2 separate regions of the Homo sapiens genome follow, and region 2 is linked to region 1. Evidence: fine-mapped expression QTL. A gene starts in region 1. The other region holds a variant in brackets. All regions are shown on one strand. Distances are between the middles of the regions.

The links. PIP is the estimated chance that this variant, and not a neighbour inherited with it, causes the effect.
Region 2: its variant is fine-mapped to the expression of TSC2 in whole blood (TOPMed, PIP above 0.99). The same link has a PIP of 0.9 or more in blood mononuclear cells, fibroblasts, lung and lymphoblastoid cells.

Annotation. Positions count from the first base shown.
Region 1 is chr16:2,043,812-2,051,972 of GRCh38, forward strand. TSC2 (TSC complex subunit 2) reads left to right here and starts at 4,174. Exons shown (of 42, transcript NM_000548.5): 1 at 4,174-4,254; 2 at 4,776-4,942; 3 at 6,589-6,675. The coding sequence starts at 4,805. It overlaps NTHL1 (nth like DNA glycosylase 1), which reads right to left and starts at 4,023. Exons shown (of 6, transcript NM_002528.7): 1 at 3,898-4,023; 2 at 2,317-2,555; 3 at 819-989. The coding sequence starts at 4,012. RefSeq lists enhancers at 3,427-3,926, 3,518-3,577, 4,028-4,117 and a silencer at 4,208-4,437.
Region 2 is chr16:2,076,943-2,084,942 of GRCh38, forward strand. TSC2 (TSC complex subunit 2) reads left to right here. Exons shown (of 42, transcript NM_000548.5): 26 at 656-784; 27 at 2,090-2,254; 28 at 2,334-2,486; 29 at 2,615-2,727; 30 at 3,223-3,435; 31 at 4,653-4,856; 32 at 5,494-5,562; 33 at 6,753-6,874; 34 at 7,286-7,773. Among named protein-coding and RNA genes, the nearest start is that of MIR1225, 9.3 kb to the right of the region's middle. RefSeq lists an enhancer at 1,480-2,189. The variant T/C (reference allele first, on the strand shown) is at 3,743.

The sequences.
Region 1 (8,161 bases):
CCAGAGCTACCTGCACCTGCTGAGGACGTGTGCAAGCTCAGCCCCCGCCCCCCAGGAGGCGGGAACAAGCGGAGGGCAGCAGGGAGGCCCAAGGTAGGCCTGACCCCCTCCTCCCACCCGTGTGGGCCAATGATGCACGTGTAGGCTCTGGCTGGGGTTCCCCTGCCCGTCATTCCCTGCCAGCACCCAGGCCAGGCCAAGCAGGCCAGCCGCTCCCAGGAGTGGGGCTTGGCTGCACCTGCGCCTTCAGGAAGGAGGGCTGGAGCTGGGGCTTCCCCACCAGCTGCCAGGCCTGCCGGGTGGTTCCCATCCTGTGCCTGAGTGGAGAGGGCTATTTAAAACCCATCTGAGAAACTGCGGCCCACGCGGGTGCCAAGGGGAAGCGGCCCCACCCACCAAGCTGCTTTCAACAGATCCGCCCACCACCATCCAGTGCTCGGCGGGGTTGGGGAGCAGCCTCCCCAGGGCTCCTGGAGGGTGAGGGGCTCTGGACAGGAGGGGGTGACACACCGGGAGAGGCTAGCAGTAAACAAAGGGAAAGGCGGGTGGGCAGGCAGCCTTGGCGGTGAGGAAGGGTGGGCAGGCGGCGAGGCGGGGAAGCAGAGGAAGGAAGGGAGGATGCGAACAGGAAGGCCAAGGAGCTGCTGGGACTGGGCGTCAGGCCTCAGGGCCCCACGGCCTGGGGGGGGCTTCAGGGGGACCCCCCGAGCCTGAGATGCTTGACCCTCACTTCCTGCACCGTCGCCACCCCCCTCAGCCTTCTGAGGTCTCTCTCAGGCCACTGCCACCCGGCCCCCGTTGCCACAGGCAGGGCTCACCCTCCAGAAACCGACGGGGTAGATGAGCTTGCCCAGCGTGGCATCATCTGTCTGCAGGATGCTGTCCACCGTCAGGCCCCGCGCCCGCAGTCGCTGCATGGCGCCCGCCGTCACCTGGTCTTTGGTTTGGCTGGAGAGCATCAGTGACAGCAGCACCTGGTACCTGCGTACCTGCTTGTGCAGTGACAGGGACCGGGGTGGCGGCGGGTCCTGGGTGATTCCCTGGCCAGGCTCCGCCCCCCGCCCTCGACACACCCTGGTTTGTTGCCCTGGGCCACACTTGAGGCATCAGCCTCCCCCTGTGGGGTGGGGAGGTCTGGTTTGGGTATGTTTGGTCATCTACAACACCAGGACAATAATAGTACCTGACTCACTGGAGTAATGTGAAGCTTAAATGAATTATCTCAGTGCTTAGAATCGTATGTGGCCGGGCGTGGTGGCTCGCACCCGTCATCCCAGCACTTCGGGAGGCCAAGGCAGGCGGATCACCTGAAGTCAGGAGTTTGAGACCAGCCTGATCAACGTGGTGAAACCCCGTCTCTACTAAAAATACAAACATTAGCTGGGTGCGGTGGTGCATGCCTGTAATCCCAGCTACTCGGGAGGCCGAGGCAGGAGAATAATTTGAACCTCGGAGGCGAAGGTTGCAGTGAGCTAAGATTTCACCACTGCACTCCAGCCTGGGCAACAAGAGCAAGACTTGGTCTCAAAAAAAAACCCAACACGATCGTATCTGGCCCATCACTACTGAACAGCCATTGGCCACTACTATTATGATTGCTTCGTGAATCATCACACTACCCTTTAAAACAAATTTTTTTTTTTGAGATGCAGTATCACTCTTTCACCCAGGCTGAAGTGTGGTGGTGCCATCTTGGCTCACTGCAACCTCCGCCTCCGGGGTTCAAGCGATTTTCCTGCCTCGCCCTCCTAAGTAGCTGGGGTTACAGGTGCCTGCCACCACACCTGGCTAATTTTTGTATTTTTAGTAGAGACGTGGTTTCGCCACATTGGCCAGGCTGGTCTCGAACTCCTGACCTCAGGTGATCCACCCGCCTTGGCCTCCCGAAGTGCTGGGATTACAGGCCTGAACCACCATGCCTGGCCCATACTACCCATTTTACAGACAAGCAAACTGAGGCTCAGAGAGGCCTGTATCCAAGCCACCTGGTAGCAGAATAGGGATTAGAACTCAGCTTGGTCTAAGGGTTTCAGGCCCTGGGACCGTGAAGCAAAAGGAACTCTTCCTTCCTGATATCACACAAAGCCCAGGTCACGCCTGCACTGGGCAGAAGTTCGAGCACGAGGCCCTAAACCACTGGTGTCCTGACCTGCTGAGTGGCTACAGTGATGCAGGCGATGCTCTGGGGCACCGGGTGTCCATCCTCCCAAGGTGCTGTCTGCAGGGGAGGGTGCCAGCCAAAAGCCACCGGGTAGAAAGAAAACAAGGACCTTGCTAAGATGGGGGGTCATCTGGGCAGATGGGGCCCCTGCCTACCTTTGGGGGGGCACTGGAGTCATAGCAGTGCTCAGTCCCCAGATGGTCCACAGGTGCATCCTTTTTGTTCCTCATGGCACGGATGTTGACCAGCTGTTGCTGCCAGTCCTGGGGCTCCCAGACTGGCACCTTGAGGGGCTCAGCCCCCTCACCTTTCTCACTGTCCGAGCCCTCATAGGCCACACGCAGTCTCTGTGCTTTCCGCGGACGCTTCACGGGGCTGTGGCTTTTCCTCGCTTCTGCAAAAAGCACCACGCAGTCCCTCTGGTGGGGCCACAGGTGAAGGTAGGGTAGGGGTGCCATCCCGCCTGCTAGCTCACCCCTCACTCGTTCATGCCACAACTGTCCATCATCTAATACACTTGGGGTGCTCTGCCCTCTGCAGTCTGGGGTATGTGGGCCCTCCTTATGCCAGCGACCCTGACAAGGTCCATGTTAGCTCATGAGGACTCTAGCAACAGCCTGTACCAAGGTGCCCCCAATACATCTTCTATACTGCACCAGAGACAGTCTGCTAACACCCACATCAGGTTGTGTCACTCCCTTTTAAAAAATCCTGGCCGGCCGGGCGCGGTGGATCAAGCCTGTAATCCCAGCACTTTGGGAGGCCGAGGTGGGTGGATCACTTGAGGTCAGGAGTTCAAGACCAGCCTGGCCAATATGGCAAAACCCCATCTCTACTAAAAATACAAAAGTTAGCCGGGTGTGGTGGCAGGGGCCTATAGTCTCAGCTACTTGGGAGGCTGAGGCAGGAGAACTGCTTGAACCTGGGGGGCGGAGGTTGCAGTGAGCTGAGATCACAACACTCCACTACAGCCTGGGTGACAGAGCAAGACCCGATCTCAAAACAAACAACAAAACCTCCTAATTGACTTCCGTTTACTGTCATAATAAACTCCAAACTCTATCCTGGCATCAAAGCTCCTGCCACCCTGGCTGGCATCACCACCTGCCTGCTCCCAGCTGCACCAGTTCCTCCTGACATAGTCTGGACTACCCCTGGGGTCCCTGGGTGCCTATGGGAATCCAGCTCTGGCCAATTCTGCAGAAGTCCCAGCGGGACTAGCGCAGAGGCCCTGTCCGTGTCCCTCACTGCTCACTGCAGTGCTTGGCCCCCAGCAGGTCCTCAACGGCTGCAGGATAAATATAATAAGTGCCATGCCCTTTCCTGTTTTCCCTCAGAGGCACCCTCCCCCGAGCTGGGGGAGCAGGCTTCTGGCTGCGTGTGTCCTTGGCACCCAGCCTCTCCGAGGACAGCAAGTTCACTGCAGGAGGGCGGGGATGGGACCCACAGAGCCTGGAGTGGAGAGTCCCGGACAGAGTGGTGGGAAAGGAAGCGTTTTCTTGCTTGGGGCGAAAGGGGGCAGCGGAGCGGAGCGCCCGAAACCCAGCCCCTGCGGACCGCAATCTTTGGGAAAAAGGCGCAAGGTGGGAACGCAGGGCCGCACGTGGGAACCGTTCGCGGCTGCCGGGTTTGCAGCCCCTGCCCGCGCAGCTGGGAGCCGCAGGAGGCGGCCCGGGACTCCAGCCTGCAGCCCCTATCCCGCCTCCTCCCACGCTCCAGCCACGGCGCGGCGCTACCTGCTGCAGCCTCTCTTCTCCGGAGAGGCCCGGGCTCCTCCCTACACCCCCGCGGCCCAGCCCCGGGTCCCAGGCTCCGGCTCCGGGTCAGCATCCTCGCGCTCAAGGCGGTCATGCCGGACTCCTGCGGACTACACATCCCGGCGGCCCATGCGGCCCCGTCACGTGATGCAAGGATCGCCGGCCTTTCCGCCAGAGGGCGGCACAGAACTACAACTCCCAGCAAGCTCCCAAGGCGGCCCTCCGCGCAATGCCGCTACCGGAAGTGCGGGTCGCGCTTCCGGCGGCGTCCCGGGGCCAGGGGGGTGCGCCTTTCTCCGCGTCGGGGCGGCCCGGAGCGCGGTGGCGCGGCGCGGGGTAAGTGGCGGTCCCCACGGGGCAAGTGGCGGTCCCCACGGGGCAGCGGCCTAGAGAGGCGGACCCCGCAGTGTCCGGGTCCCGGGCCCTCACCCGCGCCCACTGCAACCCGACTCCGGAGCTCCGAGCATCCCTTAGTTTTAAGTCATGGCGGGTGCGAACGGGTCTCTGCTGCAGGCGGCTCCGTGACAGCTCCTGCTTCACATGGGTAGAGGAGAGACGGCAAACGTCGGGGCTCCCAGGACTTCGCGGCGGCAGTCCTAACCCGTGCACTGAGTCGGGCGGGGCGGGCGGCAGCGTCTGAGTAGAGAGCTCTCTAGACCAGGCCTGGTGTCTCCCGGGCTTTCCTAGGTGCCTGTTTGCGAGCTGGTCAGCTGGGCTGTAGTTGAGTTCTCCCAGGGAGTGTGGGAGGAAAGGTTATGCCCACCAGAGACCCAGGGTCCTGACGGCTGGAGGTCCGCAGTGGGGAAGGTGGGCAGAGGTGTTGCTCAGATGTCCCCATTCCTGTTTCGTTTGCACAGAGGGGTTTTCTGGTGCGTCCTGGTCCACCATGGCCAAACCAACAAGCAAAGATTCAGGCTTGAAGGAGAAGTTTAAGATTCTGTTGGGACTGGGAACACCGAGGCCAAATCCCAGGTCTGCAGAGGGTAAACAGACGGAGTTTATCATCACCGCGGAAATACTGAGAGTGAGTGAGCTACCTGTGTCTTTGCTAGGCTAGAGGGAAATGCAGAGAAGGCTGGGTTTGGTCTTGCACCAGGTTCTGTGGGAGACGGGTTGCTGGCAACTGTCTACACAGGAATGCTGTCTCCAGTACTTGGAGGCCGACATGTCCTTCCTCAGGAGACTTCGAAAGTCAGGATCTTGGTGACCTGGTTCAGGCACACTTGAGTTACTATTCAGATGTTGATGAAAGAAAGCCCATCTTATAGATGAGGCCTGAGTATCATCATCTTCACAGGTAAGGATATGTCCAGGTGTTACATGATAAGATGTGAGTTCCTGGGAGAAGTAGGTTCTTTATTTTATTTTTTTTTTGAGACTGAGTCTTGCTCTGTTGCCTAGGCTGGAGTGCAGTGGCACAATCTCTGCTCGCTGCTACCTCTGCCTCCCAGTTTCAAGTGGTTCTCCTGCCTCAGCCTCCTGAGTAGCTGGGACTACAGACACGTGCCACCACACCCATTTAATTTTTGTATTTTTAGTAGAGATGGAGTTTCACTATCTTGGCCAGGCTGGTCTTGAACTGCTGACCTCAGGTGATCTGCCCGCTTTGGCCTCCCAAAGTGCTGGGATTACAGGCATGAGCCATCGCACATGGGCTAGGTCGTTATCTTTTATGTGTGTTTGTGTCTTTGTCACACATGCCTGGCATTGTGTTTTGCCCATGAGTAAATGCTGAATTTTTGCACTTGTAAAGTTTTCTACTTAGAAACAACTAAAACGTTCATCAACTGATGAATAAAATATAGTCCATCCTGGCTGGGTGCGGTGGCTCACGCCTGTCATCCCAGCACTTTGGGAGGCCGAGGCGGGTGGATCACCTGAGGTCAGGAGTTTGAGACCAGCCTGGCCAACATGGCGAAACCCCGTCTCTACTAAAAATACCAAAAATTAGCCGGTCATAGTGGTGGGCGCCTGTAATTCCAGCTACTCGGGGGGCTGAGACGAGAATTGCTTGAACCCGGGAGGCGGAGGTTTCAGTGAGCCGTGATCGCGCCACTGCACTCCATCCTGGGGAAGAAGAGCAAAACTCCGTCTAAAAAAAAATTGTGCAGTTTGAAATTGTATTTCATGTTATGTTTTATCTCAATACAACATTTGCAGTTGTGAAAAAAAATTGCACATTCTCAACTCCTCGGGATGGAGCAGTAAAGCCCCTCAGTAAATCTTTTTTTTTTTTTTTTTTTGAGACCGAGTTTCGCTCTTGTCACCCAGGCTGGAGCGCAGGGGCGCGATCTCGGCTCACTGCAATCTCCGCCTCCTGGGTTCAAGGGATTCTCCTGCCTCACTCTCCCGAGTAGCTGGGATTATAGACGCCCACCACCACGCCCAGCAAATTTTTTGTATTTTTAGTAGAGACAGGGTTTCATCATGTTGGGCAGGCTGGTCTCAAACTCCTGACCTCTGGTGATCCACCTGCCTTGGCCCCCCAAAGTGCAGGGATTACAGGCCTGAGCCACCGCGGCTCGTCAAGTGAATCTTGATTCCAGAAAGATCTGTTTTAAGTCTCTAGTCTGGAAAATGCAGTGGGAGTCTTTAGGTGGTTTGTGACTTGCAGTTAAGGAGACCGTGGCCTGAGCACTGGCCCCTTTTTCTTCTTTCATCTCTCTCCAGGAACTGAGCATGGAATGTGGCCTCAACAATCGCATCCGGATGATAGGGCAGATTTGTGAAGTCGCAAAAACCAAGAAATTTGAAGAGGTAGGTTTATCCAGTTGAGCTACTAGAGAGAGGCACGTAGACTATTCAGAGCCTGAGTTTGCTTTTTTTAGGAACATGGTTGACAGCTGACTGCCGATGATCTGGTTTGCACTTTTTTTTTTTTTTTTTTTTTGAGATGGAGTCTTGCTCTGTCGCCCAGGCTGGCACAATCTTGGCTCACTGCAGCCTCTGCCTCCTGGGTTCAAGCAGTTCTCCTGCCTCAGCCTCCTGAGTAGCTGGGATTACAGGCACGCGCCACCACACCCGGCTTTTTGTATTTTTAGTAGAGACGGGGTTTCGCCATGTTGGCCAGGCTGGTCTTGAACTCCTGACCTCGTGAACCATATGCCTCAGCCTCCCAAAGTGCTGGGATTACAGGCGTGAGCCACTGCGCCCAGCCAGTTTGCACTGTTTTAGGGGAATTTAGCTTTCATCGTAGTGATGGGGAAGCTACTGGAAATGCCCCGAATACAACCTTGAGGGACCAATCAAGCGTGGAAATGGGGAGCAAAGGGATTAGGCTTTTCTAGCAACACCAGAAAGGATTTCTATGCCGAGCGGGGGTGCGGGGGCTTATGCCTGTAATCCTAGGACTTTGGGAGGCCGAGGTGGGTGGATCACGAGGTCAGGAGTTCAAGACCACTCTGGCCAACATGGCGAAACCCCGTCTGTACTAAAAGATGATGAGCCGGGCATGGTGGCACATGCCTGTAATCCCAGCTACTTGGGAGGCTGAGGCAGGAGAATCGCTTGAACCCGGGAGGCACAGGTTGCAGTGAGCCGAGATCGCCCCACTGCACTCCAGTCTGGGTGACGGAGCAAGACTCTGTCTCAAAAAAAAAAAAAAGGAAGAGTTTGTAGTGGCTGATAGAAACGCATGCTCACTCGCTCTCTCCTGTTACAAGTTCAGGCCAAGAAAAATCAAGAAAGGGTTTGTTCCACAGAGAACAATCCTAGGCACGCTGGTCTTGGTGCCATTTTGGGAGGGTGACTGGTCGGTGGTATTGGGCGACCTCACGGACATAGAAATATTTATTTTGGGCAAACATTGCCAGACTTTCCTGATGACTTGTGGACAGGACAGGAAGTGGTCATTTTGGGAGTGCAGGTTGCTGGTAGAGCACCTGAGGGCTCTGCCCTTGCCTTGCCCAGCATTTGTGTGTGGGAGAGCAGTGAGACCTGGACCTCTCATGCTCAGATCTGCTAAGAGGAGAGTGATTGCTACCTCTGCAGCAGCTCATCTGAAACGTGCTGGCCGTACGCTACCAAAGATAGGTGTAAAGAACAGGTGTCCTTAGCCGGGCGCAGTGGTTCACGCCTGTAATCCCAGCACTTTGGGAGGCCAAGGTGGATGGATCACCTGAGGTGAGGAGTTCGAGACCCGCCTGGCCAATGTGGCAAAACCCTGTTTCTACTAAAGATACAAAAATTAGCTGGGCATGGTGTCGGGCACCTGTAATCCCAGCTACTTGGGAGGCTGAGGGAG
Region 2 (8,000 bases), 33 kb after region 1:
CCTTGCCGGACCGCAAAGAGCTGAGCCAGCCTCTGTGTTCTTGTTTGCATTTCATTTGAACGGCTTTCTCCTCCTGTCCCCCACCTTCCTGCCCGAGCTATTTTGGCTTTCCCTAGATGGGAATACGGCATTTTCCAGCGTGACCTCAACTCGGAAGCTGTTGTCTCCAGCCCCTGGGGGCCGGGGGCCAAGCTCGGCCATTACGGCCAGAGACTACTTTCTGGGGTCTTGGTCTCTTTTCCTAGTGACCTTCAGGGCCTGGCCACTGAGGCCTCAGTGCCGCCTCGGTCAGAGCTGGGCGGTGCCTGCCTTCCGCGGGTGGGTGGGATTGCCTGGCCAGCACAGCCTGGAATCTGCCGTGGGGGTGACCCACACACGTTTAATTTGCACTGACGTTGTTTGTTTTGGTGTCATGCGTGAAGCCTTACTTGTTCTCAGTCATGTTTACCAGACGTATTATCATGCATTTTTGTTTTCTGTCTCTTCCCCGCTAACTGCCCTTTGGCATGGCTCTTTTTGCTCATCTCACCCGCGGGATCTCTCCATCCTGACCCTGTGGCCTGGGACCTTTCCTCCTCACCCCTCCACTGGCTTGTTCTCCCCTTCCCGGGAGCTGGGCTCTCTGGGGCGTTGGGGCTCCTTCCTCACCCGATAGTCTGAGGATAGCCAGACCCCCCAAACAAGGCTTGAATAACTCTCCACCCGTGAAAGAATTCAAGGAGAGCTCTGCAGCCGAGGCCTTCCGGTGCCGCAGCATCAGTGTGTCTGAACATGTGGTCCGCAGGTAGCGGGACTGTCGGGTGGGGGGCACGGACCCTGGAGCTTGGCCCCGTGAGCACCTGGGTGGCAGTGCATGGGGCTGCTTGCATGACCTCATCGTCTGCCCGTGTCCTCCCTGGCCAGCCCAGGGGGAGCCGGTGACGAGGGGTGGAAAGGTTGCATTCTGTCCCCAGGCCCCGTATGAGCACGGGCTGGTTGCACGCATCCCCAGGCCCCCTCGGGGTGCCGCTCCGAGAGAGCCAGGCGTGCCGGGCAGCAGCCTCCCCAGGCTGTCCCCAAGGGCCGCAGTGTGGGTTGGGGGAGACACCACTCCTGGTTTTGGCCTTTTCGTATTCTCTAGAATGGACGTTTTTCTTCGGGCTTTCTTCTCAACAAGGTTTATTTTTTGTTGTAGCTGAAAGGGAACAAGGGGCATTTGTGGAGGGTGCTGGGGTGGGGCAGCCTGGGAGGGCCTGGGTGGGGGCTAGGATCCTGCAGGGCATGGGCATGGGCCTGGGCCCCAGGCCATGGTCTTAGTTCTCCCCGCAGTGTCTGGGTGCAGGTGTGGGCTCTCGGGCTCTCGGCTGTCACCTGCCTGTGGGTCATCGCTGCTGGCACTGGCAGAGGGGATACCTGTCTCCTCCTGGAAGCCCGTTGCAGGCCAAGGGGTCCCATGGCCCTCAGTCCATCCACCTCCTCACCTCAGGCCGGCCTCTGCTGGGTGGGACTTGGCCAGGGGTTGGGGTGGTAGAGGTGCTCGGTGAGGCTTAAAGCCATTTTCTAGCACATTCTGTATCATGAGCAAAATATTGCCTAGGGGCTATGAAATTTGTATCAGAATGAACTCCCATAAGCCTCTTCCCTGTCACTGGGTGTGGAGCTCAGGCAGCCGCTCGCCTGCCTGAGGGTGACGGTGGAAGGCCACATGGGGATCCCAGACCTCTGTGTGCTTGCCGGAGGCAGCCTGCGGGCAGAATGCAATCTGGGCCTGTCTGTGTGGCCTCCGCCTCTCTGCATGACTACACCGTTTCGCCAGGAGGCCGTAACCTAGTGCTCCCGTGGGCTTCGGTGAGGGGGATGTCGGTCTCTAGCCTCCTGAGTCTGCTCCGACCAGTAGGCCTGGTCTTCCCCACCCAGCGTCTCCCCGTTCTCTGGGACAATGTGGTCCACGTGATTCTCAAGCTGAGGCTCGCTGGGCCGCCCACGCCCTGTTGGGGTCTTTCCGAGCGAGGTCCTCAGCCGTGCATGCGTTGAGCTTTGGCCCTTGGTGATAGGTGGCTCGGCCCGCCCTACCTGGCACCCTGACCCTGGTCACGGCCTCTCCCTCCAGCAGGATACAGACGTCCCTCACCAGTGCCAGCTTGGGGTCTGCAGATGAGAACTCCGTGGCCCAGGCTGACGATAGCCTGAAAAACCTCCACCTGGAGCTCACGGAAACCTGTCTGGACATGATGGCTCGATACGTCTTCTCCAACTTCACGGCTGTCCCGAAGAGGTCCAGGCGGCACTACAGGGCTGGGCGGGCCTGCGGGAGCTCCACGGGCAAGCTGGGTTTCACGCTCCCTGTCTTCTAGGTCTCCTGTGGGCGAGTTCCTCCTAGCGGGTGGCAGGACCAAAACCTGGCTGGTTGGGAACAAGCTTGTCACTGTGACGACAAGCGTGGGAACCGGGACCCGGTCGTTACTAGGCCTGGACTCGGGGGAGCTGCAGTCCGGCCCGGAGTCGAGGTGACTGCACCTTCCTTTCCTCCGCGCCTGCCAGCCTCGACACCGGCTGTCCCGAGCCCAGGCCCACGTGGCACCCTCGTACCAGCCTGGGGACTAAGTCCACCCTGTGCGTGGGATTCTCTTCTCAGCTCCAGCCCCGGGGTGCATGTGAGACAGACCAAGGAGGCGCCGGCCAAGCTGGAGTCCCAGGCTGGGCAGCAGGTGTCCCGTGGGGCCCGGGATCGGGTCCGTTCCATGTCGGGTGAGCCTTGGCCCCAGCCACCTCCACACAGGCACCGGGGCTCCCTCAGTTGCTGCTGGTCCCAGTGTTCAGGAAGGCCCCGAGCCCAGGGGCCGGGGTGGCTGGCTTCAGGCCCGGCCCACGTCCTGACTCTGGGGTGAGCCTTCCACAGCTCACCCCAGAGCCGTGGAGTGGTGGAGTGTGGCCCGCTTGCTGCAGAGGGGCCTGCTCTGGGTGCTGGTGTTTCCTGCGGGTTTTCAGCTCGGCTCAGTCCTGGAGCCCTTCTCTGCTCCAGCGAGCCGTGGTCTGACTGCAGGACAGGTTCTGGGTCCCTCCCTGTGGCCCTGGGTTCACTGAGGCCAGCACTGTGGTGGGCCGTGCCCCAAGGGCAGAGCTGCCACCGTCTCTGGCTGCCTGTGGCACTAGCTTGCCAGGCTCGGGGGGAGCATTCAGCTTGAGGCTGGTGGTTTTGCATCAGGTAAGTGGTGGTCACCAGTCCTCTGCCCTCTTCTTCAGGGGGCCATGGTCTTCGAGTTGGCGCCCTGGACGTGCCGGCCTCCCAGTTCCTGGGCAGTGCCACTTCTCCAGGACCACGGACTGCACCAGCCGCGAAACCTGAGAAGGCCTCAGCTGGCACCCGGGTTCCTGTGCAGGAGAAGACGAACCTGGCGGCCTATGTGCCCCTGCTGACCCAGGGCTGGGCGGAGATCCTGGTCCGGAGGCCCACAGGTACTGGGCGGGGCTGGCCTGAGCGCCATCTTTCTGCCAGTCACCCACAGAGCTGTGGACACTCAGGGGCGATTGCAGACTTGGCCCTCTTGGGATATTTGGGGGTAACTTTTGTTTTTTTTTTGAGACAGAGTCTTGCTCTGTGGCCCACGCTGGAACGCAGTGGCGCAATCTCGGCTCACTGCAAGCTCCACCTCCCGGGTTCACGCCATTCTCCTGCCTCAGCCTCCCGAGTAGCTGGGACCACAGGCGCCCGCCACCACGCCTGGCCAATTTTTTTGTATTTCTAGTAGAGATGGGGTTTCAC[T/C]GTGTTAGCCAGGATGGTCTCAATCTCCTGACCTCGTGATCCGCCCGCCTTGGCCTCCCAAAGTGCTGGGATTACAGGCGTGAGCCACCGCGCCCAGCCATTTGGGGGTAACTTGTAAGTCTCCAGAGGTGAGCTGTGAGGGGCGATCCAGGTGGCTGAGGTGGGGCAGGGGCCTGTGGCGAACCAAGTGACTTCCATGGCAGAGAGTTGCCCTCCCCGCCTGGAGGCTGCAAGTCCGAGACCAAGGTGCTCCTCGGCAGGAGGTGCTCCTCAGAGGCCTCAATCCTTGGCATGCAGTTGGTTTTTTCCCTGTGTCCTCACAGGCTCTTTCCTGGATGTCTGCGTGTTAATCTCCTCTTGGGAGGAAACCGGTCATGGCTTAGGGTCCGCTCTGGTCCCTTGCTAGCCGTAATTAGCTTTCTGAAACCCAGTCTCCAGAGACAGTCCCGTTCTGAGTTCCTGGGGTTGGGACTAAAGCATACCAACATGGGGGCACAGCTCAGCCTGTTCCCAGGGGCAGAGGGAGCCCCCGCAGAGGCCCAGAGCCCAGGGACAGAGGGAGGCCTTTGCAGAGGCCCAGAGCCCAGGGGCGCCTGGGTGTGCCGTGGCTGAGGGGTGCAAAGAGTAGGGGTTCCAGCCCTCGTGGAGGCCTTGGGTCCGGACTGTGAGGCTGTGGGCTGGAGGCCGCTGCTCTGAGGTGCCTGGCGGAGCCTGGCCTCGAGGCAGGGGCTGAGCGGGGCAGCAGGGTGGGTGGCCGTCAGAGCAGCGCTGGCTCCGACATCGTGGTCCTGAGGATTGTGGGAGGGAGCATGAGGGCAAAACCAGGGCCCAGGCCAGGAGGCCCCTGGGGGGCCAGAGATGGGTAAGGGGAGGTACTGGCCTCAGGCCAAAGGTGCTGCCGCCTCCGCAGGGAACACCAGCTGGCTGATGAGCCTGGAGAACCCGCTCAGCCCTTTCTCCTCGGACATCAACAACATGCCCCTGCAGGAGCTGTCTAACGCCCTCATGGCGGCTGAGCGCTTCAAGGAGCACCGGGACACAGCCCTGTACAAGTCACTGTCGGTGCCGGCAGCCAGCACGGCCAAACCCCCTCCTCTGCCTCGCTCCAACACAGGTGAGTGGCATGGCGGGCCTTGGCACGGGCTCTGCTCCCACTGGCCTGGTGCTCCCGGTGACGGCAATGTGGCTCCTCTCTGCTGAGGGCGCCCACACGGCTGGGAGTGGTCCCTGGCCTGCCTCAGCACCATTGTTCTCCGGTGTTTGGGAGGAGGCTGACCCGTGGGAGGTGTCTGCCCTGCTCAGGAAGCTGGGGCTGGCAGCTTCAGAAGCAGTAGGGGCCCTGTGGAGCCTCTGCCCAGCATCCTCCGTGGGGAGTCCAGCACTGCGGGCTCCAGGAGGCTCTGCGGCAGCCTCCCTCCCTGCCTGGGCCCAGGTTTGGACACCTGAGCCCGCCTGCGCACTCTGGGCCCCCACCCCACTCGGCACCGTGCTTCTCGCCAGGCCCTCTGGCTCTTCCCTGTGGCTGCAGATGGCACTTAGCGGCCTAGGACGTCTATTCACGGGAGGAGGGAGGCACTGCCCTCCTCAGGTCTGCCCAAGCAGCTTGTAGCTAGCACTGGGCCCCGTGCGCGCCCCTGCCGGCCGCTGGCCCTGCCCTCTCTCCTCTGCAGGCACGGGGCCTGTGCTCTCTGCTCGACCTGTGTGTAGCCCCTCCTCCTGCTGACGTGGCCGCACACGGCCTTCCCTTGCAGTGGCCTCTTTCTCCTCCCTGTACCAGTCCAGCTGCCAAGGACAGCTGCACAGGAGCGTTTCCTGGGCAGGTATCGCCTCTCAGAGGGAAGCGGTTGGCTGCAGAGCGCCACTCTGCCTCATAGGTGCTGTGCTCGTCGCCTCATCCGCCCACCCCCATGGTCCGTCTGCCTCCATTGCCCTGGGGAGCAGGTCCCGACTCGCATGAGGACGTCTGTGCAGAATGTCTTTGGCTTGGCCAGCGGGATCCCCTTGACTTGGTCCCTTTGTGGCTGAGCCCTGTTCCCACGCTGTGCGAGCACTCCCGGCCCAGCTTCAGGCCTGAGGGGTGGGGGTGGCCTGAGTCTCCATGGTGACATCAGCTGAGCTGCAGACTCTGATGGGTGGCAGCTGTTTAGGGGGAAGCCCACCCCTGGGCCTGCACCGAGCGGGCCTTGCCCTGGCCTTTGGTGGCTCCCCTGGCCTCTGGAACCCACAGATGGGGCTGCCTCAAGTCCCAGGTTGACCAGGGGCCCTGCAGACCGACCTCTGCCTGTTGCCCCCAAGCCCTGGTGGGGAGTGCTGTGACCTGCATGGTGCTCCCCTGCCAGGTCTCCACGTGCAGACGAGCTGGTTTGGAAGGGCTGCGTGGGACGGGCCCTGGGGTGGCTGACTGCGCGTGTGCAGGGCTGTGGGGCGCCCGGGGGCTGTGATGGTCCCCTCTGTTGCTGCTTCTACTTCCTCTCCCCCTGTCCTGACGCTGGCACAGGAAATGCTGCTTTGGGACCTCCCACCCTCTCTCCTTAGCGTCCCCAGCTGTGGGTCTGGCTTGGAGTTGGAGGGTGAGCCTCTGCTCTTGGGAGCAGTCTGTTTGCAAACAGGGACTTCCCCCACGTCACGGAGTCTCCGCAGCTCTCCTCGGTTACGAGGGCTGGTTTCAGGCTCCCGCTCTTTTAGAGCTGAGGCCCGTCGGGCGGAGAGCGTCTTGCCCCTGCCTACCTGGAGGCACAGGGGTGGCTGCTGGTGGACACTAGGGTGGGCAGAGCCGATTGCCTGCCCAACCCCCGGGCACTCATGCAGGAGAGGCCTGTGTCGGGGTCACGTGCAGGCCTTCCCAGCGTCCTCCCTGCCCGCTCGGTGGATGGCAGCAGTAAGCAGAGCCCTGGGGAGGCTCGCAGGGCTGCTGTCCCTCTGGTCAGGAGAAGGCTGGTTCTCGGAGGCCACGTCAGGGCCAGGGCCTGGCCCAGCCCCACATCCAGCAGCCCCGTCTGTGTCCTCCCAGACTCCGCCGTGGTCATGGAGGAGGGAAGTCCGGGCGAGGTTCCTGTGCTGGTGGAGCCCCCAGGGTTGGAGGACGTTGAGGCAGCGCTAGGCATGGACAGGCGCACGGATGCCTACAGCAGGGTGAGTGTGGCTCAGAGCCTGGACCCTGCTGACCTCGGGGGGCTCCTTAGGGGAGGCAGGGCTCTGCGTGGGTGTGCCTGCACCCTGGGAACTGGCTCTGAACTTGGGGGAGATGTTCTTCCACATCCCTCGTGCACAGACGGTCTGCACTTTGCAGCCATCCACCTGGGCCGGCCCTGGCTGCTGGGCAGCCTGTGGTCTCAGGGGATGCTGATACCTCTGCTCACGCAGTGTGGGGCACAGCTGGTGGCAGTGCTGCTGCGTCAACGGGCGGGGGCCGTAGCCTGGTGCTCGGGCTGGTCTGTGGCCCTGGGATGGAGGACAGATAGGGCCTCACCACCTCCAGGTCAACCCCAGGTGGGCTCGAGGGTGCCTGCTGACAGGGGTTCTCTTTGGGATGGTCCTTTCTAGTCGTCCTCAGTCTCCAGCCAGGAGGAGAAGTCGCTCCACGCGGAGGAGCTGGTTGGCAGGGGCATCCCCATCGAGCGAGTCGTCTCCTCGGAGGGTGGCCGGCCCTCTGTGGACCTCTCCTTCCAGCCCTCGCAGCCCCTGAGCAAGTCCAGCTCCTCTCCCGAGCTGCAGACTCTGCAGGACATCCTCGGGGACCCTGGGGACAAGGCCGACGTGGGCCGGCTGAGCCCTGAGGTTAAGGCCCGGTCACAGTCAGGGACCCTGGACGGGGAAAGTGCTGCCTGGTCGGCCTCGGGCGAAGACAGTCGGGGCCAGCCCGAGGGTCCCTTGCCTTCCAGCTCCCCCCGCTCGCCCAGTGGCCTCCGGCCCCGAGGTTACACCATCTCCGACTCGGCCCCATCACGCAGGGGCAAGAGAGTAGAGAGGGACGCCTTAAAGAGCAGAGCCACAGCCTCCAATGCAGAGAAAGTGCCAGGCATCAACCCCAGGTGGGCCTCTTGCTTCCGGGCGGGGCTCCTGACACCTCTCCTGCGGGAACCTGGTGCCTCACTTGCCCCAGGCCGAGCGGGCTGGGGTGGGGTCCTCGCCTGTGCCCTAGGGCTGGCTGGAACCCCTGGGAGGGCGGTGGAGTGGGAGATGGCCAGGCTCTGTGTTCCTCCCTGTGGGCTGTGGCTGCCCTGGCCAGGCCCTCACCTGGGTGCCCACCATCCCCTCC